3 separate regions of the Homo sapiens genome follow, and regions 2 and 3 are each linked to region 1. Evidence: fine-mapped expression QTL. A gene starts in region 1. Each other region holds a variant in brackets. All regions are shown on one strand. Distances are between the middles of the regions.

What was found. PIP is the estimated chance that this variant, and not a neighbour inherited with it, causes the effect.
Region 2: its variant is fine-mapped to the expression of UNC119B in tibial nerve (GTEx, PIP 0.92).
Region 3: its variant is fine-mapped to the expression of UNC119B in tibial nerve (GTEx, PIP above 0.99).

Annotation. Positions count from the first base shown.
Region 1 is chr12:120,709,309-120,711,981 of GRCh38, forward strand. UNC119B (unc-119 lipid binding chaperone B) reads left to right here and starts at 1,150. Exons shown (of 5, transcript NM_001080533.3): 1 at 1,150-1,410. The coding sequence starts at 1,167. It overlaps LOC124903036 (a long non-coding RNA gene), which reads right to left and starts at 1,198. Exons shown (of 2, transcript XR_007063491.1): 1 at 1,129-1,198; 2 at 625-966. RefSeq lists silencers at 1,040-1,099, 1,190-1,459 and an enhancer at 1,067-1,909.
Region 2 is chr12:120,683,492-120,686,164 of GRCh38, forward strand. All of the region lies in intron 1 of LOC105370029 (a long non-coding RNA gene), which reads right to left. Among named protein-coding and RNA genes, the nearest start is that of MLEC, 2.3 kb to the right of the region's middle. RefSeq lists a silencer at 1,573-1,662. The variant C/T (reference allele first, on the strand shown) is at 1,382.
Region 3 is chr12:120,666,288-120,668,951 of GRCh38, forward strand. It overlaps CABP1 (calcium binding protein 1), which reads left to right. Exons shown (of 6, transcript NM_001033677.2): 6 at 588-1,037. The coding sequence ends at 613. Among named protein-coding and RNA genes, the nearest start is that of MLEC, 20 kb to the right of the region's middle. RefSeq lists enhancers at 422-943, 944-1,464. The variant G/T (reference allele first, on the strand shown) is at 1,438.

The DNA of each region.
Region 1 (2,673 bases):
CTGAACTGCTGGGAATTCAGGGGTGAGGCAGACCCAATCCCTGCCCTCACTCTTACATCTCCTGTAGCCTAGCCCAATGTCTAGCCCAGGGCCTGGCACAGTAGGGCTTACGGATGGCAATCTCATTGGAAAGTTTGTCTTGAAACTGCCTTTGCAAAACAAACACTGCTTTAACTTACCTTCTATGCTAAATATATTAATAAACATTTTCTCAAGATGCATTGTCCACTAATAGCTTAGTGTTGAAGAACAGGCCTTGGGTCAGATGGACCTGGATTAAAATCCCTGTTCCCTCCTCTTACTGCTTGAGGGACTTTGGACATGTTACCTGACTTCTCTGAACTTGAGCTTCCTGATCTGTAAAATGGAGACAGTAATACCTCACAGGGTTGTTGTGAGGTGAGGAGCCTGCCCTATAGCAAGTGTCCTGCCATATAGCAAGTGCGCAGTAAACACTGGCCATTCTTCTTCTTGGTGTGATTACTGGGAATTAGTTGCCATTGTGCTGTTGGGACTGGTGACAGAACTCTTGGATTGAGAATGCCGAGATGGTGCACGGAAGATTCTGTGTGCTCTTTCAGACCAGGAGGAGGATGAGGAGGAGGAAAGTTTATATGACGTAAATTCATTTGACCGTAAGATATGTATTTAAACATCGTGGAGGATCTTGGGGGTCTGATGGGGAGTGGGGTTGCTGAAGCTCCAGCCACCCCTAGGCCCTCCACCTGGCAGGACCAAAGTTGGGGCAGTAGCCGAAGCACCGCCCCCCGGGCCCCGCAGGAGTGTGCAGTCACCCAGTTAGGCCTATCTTGGCCTGCCCATCACTCCTGGCCTGCGGTCTCCTAACCCTGTGGCAGCAGCAGCATTCCCTGAATGGATCGAAGGCTGCCATGGTGTCGTCCGCTGAATTGCTATAGGAGTCAGCCCAGGGCTGCTCATGTGCACCTCAGGTTGCTGATGGCAGCTCTAGTTATTTGGGGATGGAAGTTTGGGGAGAGTGGGCCTTGGTCCACCCTGTGCGAAAGGGAATTCCACAGCCCCCCGGGCGCCCGCCCCCGCCCCCGCCCCGCCCCCTCCCCGCCCCTTCCCCGCCGGGCCCCGGGCCCCGCCCCCGCTCTCCATAGTTACCGCGCTGTGGAGGCGGCGGCCATCTTGGCGGCGGAGCGATGAGCGGGTCTAACCCGAAGGCTGCGGCCGCGGCGTCGGCGGCTGGGCCCGGGGGGCTGGTGGCTGGCAAGGAGGAGAAGAAGAAGGCGGGCGGCGGCGTCCTGAACCGCCTGAAGGCGCGGCGGCAGGCGCCCCACCACGCGGCCGACGACGGCGTCGGGGCAGCGGTCACGGAGCAGGAGCTGCTGGCGCTGGACACCATCCGGCCCGAGCACGTCCTGCGCCTCAGCCGGGTCACCGAGAGTGAGTGCCGCGCGGGCCGCGCCCTCCCCTCGCGCCGTGCCCCGGCTCCCGGAGCCTTCAGCGGACCCGGCCACTTGACCAGCGCGGGGGTCCCCGCCAGACCCCCTCGGCCGGCCGGGCCGCGCTTCCCGCTGCCCCGCCGGCCGGGCTTTGCTCCCGCCACGCTCACGTAGCTCTGGTGGGGAAGGACTCTCCTGGGCTGGACCGCATTCCTGTGAGTCCGGCCACGCTAGGATGCCCTTCGGCCGGTCGGCTCCCCAGCTCTGCCGGACCTGTTTGGGTAGAGGGCCCCGTTCAGCTGAACTGGATCCTCCTGAGCCGGCCGGGGGCCGAGGTCCCCTAATAAATGGGCCCCTGGGCCCTCAGCCTGGAACCCCCGGCCATCAGTGAAGTTCCCGCTCAGCCAGGCTCCCCCAGCCCTCTGGCAGGCCAGAAGCCTTACCTGCTTCCTCCGCCCTGGCCCCATGGCAGCCCTCCCCCATTGCAGCCTGCCCGGCCTCCCTCCCTCTTTGGGTCGGGAGCGTTGCCCCTTAGTGTGCAGATGGGTTCTTCCTCAAAACACATAGCCGTGGCATTTCCTGCTCATTTAAAACTGTGCCACATTAAAACAAAAATAAAGTTTCAGTTTGTGTACAGACTCCGACATGTGAATCCTGCTTTTGACATTCTCGTGAATTAAGAATGATTTCAGAGTTTCAGAAATGCGTTTCCTGCACAAAAGGCAACCATCCTAAGCTTTTTCGTTGATAGGAGGATGGGTGGGAAGAAAAATGTTGCCCAGTCCCTGCCCTGGGTGATCTCCCTTTTTCTGTTCTCTGCCAAGCCAGTCCCTGACTTGACGTCTTTTCTCTTGCTGCTGTTTTCCCTGCAGGAGTGTGCACTCACCTAGTTAGGCCTATCTTGGCCTGCCCATCACTCCTGGCGTGCAGTCTCCTAACCCTGTGGCAGCAGCAACATTCCCTGGATGGATCGAAGGCTGCCATGGTGTCTGCTGAGCTGCTATAGCAGGCAGCCCAGGGCTGTTCAGGTGCACCTCAGGTTGCCGATTGCAGCTCTAGTAATTTGGGGATGGAAATTTGGGGGGAGTAGGCCTTGGTCCACCCTGTGCGAAAGGGAATTCCCATTTCCTAAAAGAGTTTTAATTTGATTCTAGATATTTGGATGCCCCCGTTTCCCAATACTGTTTGGGTTGAGACTGTCCTTACCAGACCTGAACGTATCTTTAGACATTCTTGTTAGTTTTATTGAAACAGTGTGAAAAAG
Region 2 (2,673 bases), 26 kb before region 1:
TCCAGGCCAGGTGCGGTTGTTCACACCTGTAATCCCAGCACTTTGGGAGGCCAAGGCAGGTGGATCACTTGAGGCCAGAAGTTCAAGACCAGGCTGGCCAACATGGAGAAACCCTGTCTCTACTAAAAATACAAAAATTAGCCAGGCATGGTGGTGCATGCCTATAATCCCAGCTATCTGGGAGGCTGAGACACGAGAATTGCTTGAACCCAGGAGGCAGAGGCTGAAGTGAGCCGAGATCATGCCACTGCACTCCAGCCTGGGCAAGAGTGAGACTCTGTCTCAAAAAATAAATAAGTAAAATAAAGTATTCCAGTCATGTGCTACATAACATTTCAGCCAATGACGAACCACATACACGATGATGGTCCCGTGAGATTATAATATTGGCTGGGTGCAGGGGCTTAGGCCTGTAATCCCAGGACTTTGGAAGGTCAAGGCGGGAGGACCGCTTGAGGCCACAAGTTAGAGGCCAGCCTGGACAACATAGTGAGAATCTGTCTCCACAATAAATAAATAAATAAATAAATAAATAAAATTTTGTGTGTGTGTGTGTGTGTGTGTGTGTGTGTATATATATATATATTTTTTTTTTGAGACTGGATCTCACTCTGTCACCCAGGCTAGAGTGCAGTGGTGCGATCTCGGCTCACTGTAACCTCTGCCTCCCGGGTTCAAGCGAGTCTCCTGCCTCGGCCTTCCGAATAGCTGGGATTACAGGTGCGCCCCACCATGCCCAGCTAATTTTTGTATTTTTAGTAGAGACAGGGTTTTTCCATGTTGGTCAGGCTGGTCTCGAACTCCTGGCCTCAAGTGATCCACCCACCTCAGCCTCCCAAAGTGCTGGAATTACAGGCATGGGCCACTAGGCTGGCCAATACTGTGTTTATACTGTATCTGTGTTTAGATACGCAAATACTTACCATTGTGTTCAACTGTCTACAGTATTCAGTAAGGTAACATGCTGTAGAGGTTTGTAGTGTAGGAGCTATCAGCTATACCATATAGCCTAGGTGTATAGCAGGCTATCCCCATCTAGGTTTGTGTAAGTACACTCTGTGATCTCTGCACAATGACAAAATCGCTTAATGATGCATTTTTCAGAACGCATCCCTGTCATTAAGTGACTCATGACTGTATCTCTATTTCACAACTGAGGAAACTGAAACTCAGCGAAGTACATCACTTGCCCAAGGCCACACAGTGGGTAAATGGGACTAGGCATGGGATGCAGGCAGCCTGTCTTAGATCCCACGCTCGGATCCCATACCCTGCCTCCAGGGTCTCAGACTTTACGTTTTACTGAAAAGACAGCCTAATTCATGAGCAGCTGGATCTCAGAAAGGGAGCCAAGCTCCTTGGTACACAGATGGCCCAACCA[C/T]GAATGGTATCTGAAGGGCTCAATAACAGGAGCCAGCCGGGTATCTTCTTCACCCTCTGGGGTGACCAAAGACACGAAGGACTGAGAGAAAGCCTTTAGAGGCCTCCCCCAAAATTTAATCCGTTTTTGTGATTGTTTCTCCTGGACTAGACTGCCTTGAGGATAAAATAAACATGAGCGCCTGGTGGCAGTGCAATACCTGAGTGGTACGTGGGCTCTGCAGGCCAACTGCCTGGAGGGAGGAAGCCCCATCACCACTACTTGTGTTTCTGTTCCCCATTTGCACCACACCCCTCCTTTGAGGGTAACTGAAGCCTCTGAGTTGTCAAGATCCTTAAAAGATGACAGTTTGAGAGAGAGAATAGTAGAATTAGAAACCCCAAGAGGCCAGGTGTGGTGGCTCACACCTGTAATCCCAGCACTTTGGGAGGCCGCGGACCCCGAGGTCAGGAGATCGAGATCATCCTGGCCAACATGGTGAAACTCGGTCTCTAATAAAAATAAAAAAAACTAGTTGGGTGTGGTGGCGCGCGCCTGTAGTCCCAGCTACTCAGGAGGCTGAGGCAGCAGAATCGCCTAAACCCGGGAGGTGGAGGTTGCCATGAGCCGAGATTGCACCACTGCACTCCAGCCTGGCGACAGAGCAAGACTCTGTCTCCAAAAAAGACAGAAAAAAAAAAAAAAAGAAACACCTTGGACAGGAAACATGTCTATGGGAGGAAGTAAGGCCAGATGCTTGCAAAATAGGGGGGAAAGTGAGACCGGGAGGGAACACTTCCAAAAGTTACCCCCATGGGGTCTGAATTTGGGGCCTGGGAAGGAATTTGGGTGCATTTAGATCCACCACTGATAGTCTCTATTTTGGCACCCTGTTTTGTTCCCGTATAGCACTTACCACTGTTCTAACTAAACAATTAATTTCATTATGGGTTGTGCAAAGTCTATGATTCTCATGCGGGACCCCAGGTGTGTTTTTTGTTCATGTAGCACAAAGCTCATTGCCTAAGTAGTAGGTAGGATTGGTAGATAAAATACAAGAAGTCCAGTTGTTTAAATTTTAATAAACAATGCATTTTTTTTTTTAGTATAAGTGGGTCCCATTTGCTTATCTGAAATTCAAATATAACTGGGCTTCTCCTATTTTATCTGCCAAATCTGACAACCCTGGTAGCAGGGACTTGATACATTTTTTTCCTTTTAGGGAGAATTTCTAAATCGACCAGTATTTATGGAAAATGCATAAGCGTTTTTTTGTTTTTTTTGTTTTTGCCTTGACTCTGCCCTACACTTGC
Region 3 (2,664 bases), 43 kb before region 1:
ACATGGTGAAACCCCATCTCTACTAAAAGTACAAAAATTAGCCAAGCGTGGTAGTGCACACCTGTAATCCCAGCTACTAGGGAGGCTGAGGCAGGAGAATCGCTTGAACCCAGGAGGTGGAGGCTTCAGTGAGCTGAGATCGCATCACCGCACTCCAGCCTGGGTGACAGAGCAAGACTCCATCTCAAAAAAAAAAAAAAAAAAAAAATGCTGAGAGGTGAGAGAGAGAGTGCGCCAGCTGCACTTGAGGGGCTGAAAAGATCTGTGTAGTTGGAGCACAGAGGTTGGGAGTTAGCCTGAGAGATATGGCTGGAGATGTCAGCTGGCGCCAGATCAGGGAGGGCCATGAGGCTGTGTCAGGATATTGGAGATTTTTCCAGTGGAGAGCTGTGGGAGGTTTACGCAGCGGTCAGATCCGCAGATTAGAACACTCTCGCTGGCTGCTGTGTCCATGGATTGGAGAGGGCGGAATGGATGGGGGACCAGCACAGAGTTGGGGCAGTGGCAACAGGGTGGGGTCTGAAGGCAGCAACCTGGGGAGGCCTCTGGCTGCTGCTTGCTCCCCAGCTGCTCCTCTACCCTTCTAGAGTTTGTCCGGATGATGTCCCGCTGAGGCCGCGAGGGCCCCTCCAGGACTGCCAAGCTCCCAAAGGCGGGGCTAAGAGGAGCTAGAGCTTGCCTCACCCGCTGTAGCCGCCGAGAGCCCAGGATGTACTGGCGGATGGGGCCTGCCTGCACCCCGGGGAGGCGCCCACCCCGGACCCCCACCCCTCCGCACTGTGAAAGACTAACTCCTGCAACTGGAAAGCGGGGGCGCCCGCCGACGAGGAGGCCACCGTGCCAAGCCGGCAGAGGTCATGCCAGGCGCCAAGGGCCATGTGCCCAGCTGCTGCTGGCTGGGTGGGCCAGGGAGCCCGCCAGCAGACCCCACACAGCATGTCCGCCCCAGGGCAAAGCCTCCCACCTTCGCTCTGCGCCCGTCCCAGCTCGCCTCAGCCCTGTTATCTCAGAACCAATAAAAATATTTCCAAGAGCAAGACAGCCGTGATGGTCTTTCCTCCTTGGGCCTGGTTAGATGACCCTCACATTTCCTGAGTACCAACTGCATGCCCAGAACCTGCTGATCATTTTTGCATTCAGCATTTTTTGTTTGTTTATTTATTTATTTCGAGAAGAAGTCAAATGAGGGTTCTTTTGACCTTCCTGTGTTTTCTGTTTTGAGACAGGGTCTAGCTCCGTCACCCAGGCTGGAGTGCAGTGGCGTGATCTCAGCTCACTGTAACCTCTGCTTCCCAGGTTCAAGCGATTCTCCTGCCTCAGCCTCCCGAGTAGCTGGGATTACAGGCGCCCGCCACCACGCCTGGCTAATTTTTGTATTTTTAGTAGAGATGGGGTTTCACATGTTGGGCAGGCTGGTCTCAAACTCCTGATCTCAAG[G/T]GATCTGCCTGCCTTGGCCTCCCAAAGGGCTGGGATTCCAGGCGTGAGTCTCCATGCCTGGCCAACATGCATTTATTGAGTACCTATTATGTACTCAGTGACTTCCATTCTCATCCGTGGGCCAGAACCTGGGACTGCTAAGGGAGACTGAAGAATGTAGTTAGTTATTTAGCTGGGTACTCAGCTTCCCCAAACAAAATCAGGTTCTATAAGAAGAGAAGCATCCAGCAGAGTCTGTATCACTTCTGACTTTCTGGAACTTTTATACTGGTTGGAGAGACAGGCATGAGAGAAACACATCATATAGGATTACAAATTGTGATACTGCTATTGAGGAAAAATATAGGGACCTTCGGCAGGATATACTAAGGAGGCCTGGCCTCCTGTAGGGAGGTCAGAAAAGGCTTGCCCAGTGAAGTGATGTCAAGGGTTTTGCTCTGGAGGAAGTCCCAGTGTGTGCGGACAGACAGATATAGACACAGCTGCCACTGGCTGCGCGCCGTGGCTCATGCCTGTAATCCCAGCACTCTGGGGAGGCTGAGGCGGGAGGATCACCTGAGTTCAGGAGTTCAAGACTAACCTGACCAACGTGGCCTGTCTCTACAAAAATAGAAAAATTAGCCGGGCGTGGTGGCATGCACCTAGAGTCCCAGCTTCAGGAGAATCGCTTGAACCCAGGAGGTGGAGGCTGCAGTGGGCCGAGATCATGCCACTGGGTGACGGAGCGAGACTCCGTCTAAAAAAAGAAAGAAATAGCTGCCATCCTCTCTGCTGAGTGGGAGGAAGATGTGTAGCCAATAGGCCCAGGGTTTGCTTGCTGTGTGACTTAGGGCCAGTCGCGTCCCCTTTCTGAAGCTCAGTTTCTTCCTGTGTAATGTGGGGATGATAAAGGATGGGGTCAGTGCATAGCAAGTGCCCTCAGGGCATTGCACCACACGGCACACCCCAGGGACTGCTATTCAGACTGCAGTGGAATCATGCAATTGAAAAGACCCATTGTAATTCGTTTCTATAAGTGAAGTCTTAAAGCAGCCCAAAGGAGAAATCTGTGGGTAGAAGTTGTCGAGTCTTAGACAGGCTTGGAGCGTACTTGGGCAGGTGTGTGGGGTGGCCGGTGTACCTCAAGCCATTGGTTCCCAAATCTTAGCATACAGCAGAATTGCCTGGAGCATTTGTGAAGCCCAGATCTGGGCCACCCCCGCAGTGATTCTGATCCCATGTCTGGGG